Regions from separate parts of the Homo sapiens genome. Here region 1 is linked to region 2. Evidence: fine-mapped QTL for protein levels in blood plasma. A gene starts in region 2. The other region holds a variant in brackets. All regions are shown on one strand. Distances are from middle to middle.

Region 1 (2,924 bases), 25 kb before region 2:
TCTCCTCATCGAAGCAACAACTGTATCAGTAGCTTCTCCCTAAAACAGAGTATTTCATCTGAATATTCTCTGATTCAAGGGTTCTGCTTCAAGTCTTGATGATGACTTAGGGAGCTGCAGTCTCATTTTTTTCAGAGCACTTAGATTCCAGCTTATGTTTTTTCTTCTCCCTTTATCTTTCTCTCTCCTCTACCCTCCTTTCTTCCCTGTTTATCTTCCTTCCTTCCTCACTCCTTCATTCTGTTTTGATAGAAAATCAATCACTTAATGACTTGAAGGAGTTTCAGGCTCCTAATGGAGAGCTACTTTAGACTCTTGGGAAGGAGGGACCACAGGGGTTATTTGTGAGTTTCTAAATCCCAGGTATGTCAGCCTGAAAAACCTCTAACTGTGGGGGGTCAAAAAAATCACAAATTTGAGGTTAAAGTACTAAAAGTTATTTTATATTCTATGTCCTTTCTTGTGATATAGCTTTAAGGTTAAAAAAACAGTTTATGACATATTTTATCAAATTTACTATTAACGTAGCTAACCAGTAATATTCTAGTTACTGAAGTCATCATTATCCAAATCCCTGTAGTTGAAAAGATGCATAAAATCAAGAATCAAAAGTTGCCATGACCTAGCACCATTCACTTTTGAGCATATGGCTAATAAAATTAGTTTCCTTTCAAAGAGCCTTCTATTCCTGGCACAAATACCCATCCTCAACCAATCAAGATCTTATTGATCAGTCTCTAGCTAATTTTTTGAATGCTCTAATGCCCTAACAACCCAATATAATACAAGAAAAGTCAGCTATAGAGACAAATCATGGACTTTTAAAAAGATAGAGGACAATGATGGGTAGTCTCTGGATATGAGAATAATCTGAATAGCAAAGAATTGAGGAAATTTTGAAAAATTAATGAGTTATATATAATTAGAAATATAACCATGCTGCAGAATTAAAATGTGAAATGGGGCATAATGTCTCATATAATTTTGTTGGATAAACAGAAATGCAAATGTAAAAAATAATGCTTGATTTATTCTTTGTGTTAATAATCAATGTTTATTTGTAGTTAAAATCTAAATTTGATAAATAATATAAAATATTTTAGTTTTGTTCCTCAATATAGAAATGCTCAACTTACAATGAAATTTTGGCCCCTTATATATGCAGATATTTTATAGGTTCCAATTATTCTCAGATAATGACACCGTCCTGTTTATACTAATGGTATGACATTTAAAATTCAACTTGCGATACAAAGAACAGAAAAAGATGACCACTTATTGAGTGTCTTTTATATTTTGTGATGTGCACTAACTATATATTACACGTATTTTCTCATTATTAATCTTCACAGTGACCTTCCATGGTAAGAAGCTATCAAAAACTCCACTCTATAGATGAAGACACCAAGACTTAAAATTTAAGTAGCTTGTATAAAGTCAAATAGTTATGGTGTGAAAGAGAAGGAATTATGTTTGTAAG[T/C]TGTTTATTAATGGTGTTCAAGAAGGACCAAGTAAATAACCCACCACCTTACTGCTCAATTTCTCTGCCAGTTGAGAAATTAAAAATGAATGAATGAATAAATGAATAAAAATAAAACAAGACAAAGCAAATAAGAACCCAAAATATTACCTTTATTACTGATAAATCTTATGTTGGAAATTGTGGTGTCTATTGTGGAGACTTCTAGAATGATGCAGTCCACAGGTTGACATTACATGTGGTTCACTAAATCTCCTCAATTGATATGATTTGGCTGTGTCTCCATCCTAATCTCACCTTGGATTGTAGTTCTCATAATCCCCACATGTCGTGGGAGGGACCTGGTGTGAGGTAAGAGAATCATGGGGGCAGTTACCCCAATGCTTTTCTTGTGATAGTGAGTGAGTTCTCATGAGATCTGATGGTTTTAAAAGGGGCTTTTCCCCTTTTGCTCAGCAGGTCTCCTTCCTGCCACCTAGTGAAGAAGTTGCCTTTCTTCCCTTTGCCTTCCAGCATGATTGTAAAGCTTCCTGAGGCCTCCCCAGCCATGCTGAACTGTGAGTCAATTAAACCTCATTATAAATTATCCAGTCTCAAGTATGTCTTTATTAACAGCATGAGAAATGACTAATACACCAACCTTGAAGTCCAAAAGAAATGTGAATTAGTACAATTGGGGTTTTAAAAATTCATCAACAAGAGCTATAGCATTGGCTGTTCAGGAAAAATGAAGCTTTTAAAACATACATCCCATCTTTAATAACATTTCATCACACACAGCTCACGTGCCATTATCAGAGATAAAACATGTGGCTGAATGAGACATTGATATGACTTATTGGGAATACATCTTGTGCTCTTAGTAAGTTCCTCTTCTAAACATTATGATGAAAAAGTGCTTGAAATAGTATATTTCTCACCTACTAATTTTACCTTATTGAGCCAAAGAAATAAAAACGTTGTTATCTAAAACAGTGATCCCTAACTGCTTGGGCACCAGAGACTGGTGCCGTGGAGAACAATTTTTCCATGGACTGGCAAGCTGCAGGGGATGGTTTTGGGATAAAACTGCTCCACCTCAGATCATCAGGCATTAGATTCTCATAAGGAGTGCACAACCTAGATCCCTTGCATGTGCAGCTCAAAAAAGGGTTTGCATTCCTATGAGAATGGAATGCCACCACTGATCTTACAGGAGGCAGAGCTCAGGCAGTAATCTCGCTAGCTGCTCACCTCCTGCTCTGCGGCCTGATTCCTAACAGGCCATGGACCAGTACCCGGGCCATCTATGGCCCAGGGCTTGGGGATCCCTGATCAGAATACATAGTCAAGTTCAGTGTACATGAATTAGTGATCAATAGATCTTGAGAAGAAATTCTGAATTTATATGGGAACATCAACCCAAAAACTCTAAAGGAAGAGACTGCAATAGAAAATAAAATGG
Region 2 (2,924 bases):
ATCTGAATAAAGGGTGATATTTTTGGTGTAACATATGTAATTGAGTAGAAATCATGGGAATCTCATGCTTACTTTATCAGCCCTATAGAGAACACCTCAATCAAGCCAGCATTGTTCACCTAACTGGTAGCTAGCTGTATGTTACATTTGTATATGTTAACATAAAGCTGAAGAACAGAAAGAAAATGGATAGCTCTTTGTTCAATGCCTTAGAAACTTTGCCCCTATGGAGTGTTAATAGAATGCTGAGATATCTTTTTTGGTAAAGGGACTGGGAAAAATGCCAAAAAAAAATGCTAATGTGCGTTTCTCCACACTTTATACAGGTGAAATCTGATTAAAACAAGCACTGCTTGCTTCACACAGAAGTGGAATCACAAAAGGAAAACAGGTAACCTGAAGCCTGTGTGTAGGAGAAAGGAACACAGCTTCCTTATTTAGTTATTTCATTTGAGAATTGTATGTGGTATGTATATGAAGAGTTTGGGAAGGGGGATAAATTGTAGGTGTGTAAGTGCATCTCTGATGCCTTTCCTTTTGAAAAGCTTGATTGACTGCTTGATTGAGTTTGTAGAGCCACGTCTGGCTCCAGTCAACTTCTCCAAGGGACATTTCTACAGGTAGCTGTCAATAGAAGAGCCCCAAGTCCCTAAAAACTACTTGCCACAAGACAATGCTTCTAATTTGGGGATTTAAGGATAGTTCTAAGTAAACAAATTGCTTAATAAATATTTGTCAAATTGAAATGAAGGGATGTAACCTCAGAATTATGAAAAATGTGGTCTATTTTACAACCAATTTGGGAAGGACGCCATCAAATGATAAGCTGACCAGTAAAGGTAAAAGTAGGTAAAAGGAGCTAGCCACGGAGCAGGAAAAGCTGATAAGTGGCAGAAAATCTCGAAATTTACATTTCGAAAATGTTTGGGTGAATTTGTATAATACATCTTAATCCTTTTACACAATACTTTTATCTCATCTTTATCATAAATATTTACCTATGCATTGCCTTAGCGTCTTTCCTGTATTGAATGAAATGACAATTCCAGAGACGCAAAGCCCAGCCTCCAAGTTTTACAAACCTCAGAGTTTGAGCTACTTTGACGAATCCTCTAAATTCTTGGGTGTCAAAGGCATGTTACTAAATAGGTTGCTAAAGGCACCAAGGAAACCAAAAAAGGAAAGAGCTCTCCCTAAAGGTAAGTAGCACTTAATTGGGAACTTTGAGACGTCTGTCACTCTTTGTGACAATTGAGAAAAAGTACTTTGTACATTTTGTGCTTTGCAGGTGAGATGTGACTGACACCTTACTGTCTCTGTGTTTAGAGAGGGCTTTCGTGGGTGGAAGAAGAGGCTGGTTTGAAGAGAGTGCTTTTCCATTCTGAATATCATTAAAGGATTGTGGGGGGCCAAAAATGTAACCTAAAATGCCATCAATTGTCCATTTAAAATATCCTATTTGGCAAAGTGGCTTTGCACTCATCTGAAGAATAGATCATGGGTGGAGTTTGGAAAAGAAATGTTGTGTTTCGTCTCTGCTAAAAACAAAACAAGGTACCATCTCATGGCCTCTTGGTTCAAATCCGTTTTCTTGCTCCGCAGGGAGAGACTGCCCCTGGAGTATTCTGCTTTTAATAAGCTTCCCAATCAGCTCTCGAGTGCAAAGCGCTCTCCCTCCCTCGCCCAGCCTTCGTCCTCCTGGCCCGCTCCTCTCATCCCTCCCATTCTCCATTTCCCTTCCGTTCCCTCCCTGTCAGGGCGTAATTGAGTCAAAGGCAGGATCAGGTTCCCCGCCTTCCAGTCCAAAAATCCCGCCAAGAGAGCCCCAGAGCAGAGGAAAATCCAAAGTGGAGAGAGGGGAAGAAAGAGACCAGTGAGTCATCCGTCCAGAAGGCGGGGAGAGCAGCAGCGGCCCAAGCAGGAGCTGCAGCGAGCCGGGTACCTGGACTCAGCGGTAGCAACCTCGCCCCTTGCAACAAAGGCAGACTGAGCGCCAGAGAGGACGTTTCCAACTCAAAGTAAGTGAGAGGAACGTACGATTTCTCGGAGGGCTCTTCGATCGAGTTTGCCTTCACCCTGTGCCACTTTTCTGGGTGCCAGCAGATGATGGTGGTAGGGGTGAGAGAGGCTGCCTGGTGTCTTTGCTGATAGGACTGCTTTCAAAACTGACTTGCTCCAGAGGCCAAGGGAGGCATATTTTTGGGGTTTCAGGTTAGGTTAGTTCGGGTGTGCTTAGGTAAGTGAAAGGAAAGAAGTTTTTGTGATGTTAAGCATGTATTTGGACCGTGTTCCAGCTACCAGCTGGAGAGCAAGACAGGGTGGGCTGGAGAGTGCATCTTTGCTTTTTGTAAAACCTGGAGCTTTAGTAGGTGTGTCTCTGGCTGGGTAGGTGCAAAGAAAGTAAGGCAGCCTGAACAAGCAGCTCTCATTTTCCCAGCCTCTCTCTGATTCTCTGATTGCCCCAGAGCCTGTCAGCCCATGACTCTTAGCTGGCATTTCTAGGTAAGCTGTGGGGGCTTGTTCCTCCCAGTGCTAGCTGACATGAAACGTCTCTCACGGAACTACTGGCACCCGTCTTCCCACCTGACAGCCCAGGAATGGTTCCAGAAATGGTTAGGTCCAAAGTTTAGAAGACACACCTGGAGTCCCATCTCTCATTTGAATGCAAATTTAAAGAACTGCCCAGTACATAGACCCTTAAACTTTTAATTTGACCCACATAAATTTAGGATATATTTGTTACTAATTTACTAGATATTTAGAGTTTCTGAGTTGTTGTTTCTAATAAGTTAAGAAAACATTTTTTGAGAGGAATGTATTCAACTCCTTTCTTAATAGATGGAAAGTGAAACCTCCTCTCTCCTCTCCATACACACACACCCCTTTCTCCATGACATAATGTGACACAACACACACACACACAC

Alleles and levels. Alleles are on the strand shown, and positions count from the first base shown. The strength of an association depends on the size of the effect and on how common the allele is.
As copies of T replace C in region 1, the plasma level of the protein whose gene starts at base 1,724 in region 2 goes down (weak association).

What was found. A credible set is the group of variants that fine-mapping cannot tell apart. PIP is the posterior inclusion probability: the model's chance that the variant is causal. The UK Biobank Pharma Proteomics Project read protein levels with antibody pairs (Olink). The fine-mapping took linkage between variants from a reference panel, not from the people measured, so its PIPs are less certain.
Region 1: its variant is the best candidate, but not a certain one, in a credible set for the plasma level of the PTN protein (UK Biobank, PIP 0.66).

The regions. Positions count from the first base shown.
Region 1 is chr7:137,367,469-137,370,392 of GRCh38, reverse strand. No RefSeq gene overlaps it. Among named protein-coding and RNA genes, the nearest start is that of PTN, 25 kb to the right of the region's middle. The variant T/C (reference allele first, on the strand shown) is at 1,481.
Region 2 is chr7:137,342,533-137,345,456 of GRCh38, reverse strand. It overlaps PTN (pleiotrophin), which reads left to right and starts at 1,724. Exons shown (of 5, transcript NM_002825.7): 1 at 1,724-2,018. RefSeq lists a cis regulatory region at 1,172-1,181 and promoters at 1,185-1,930, 1-1,930.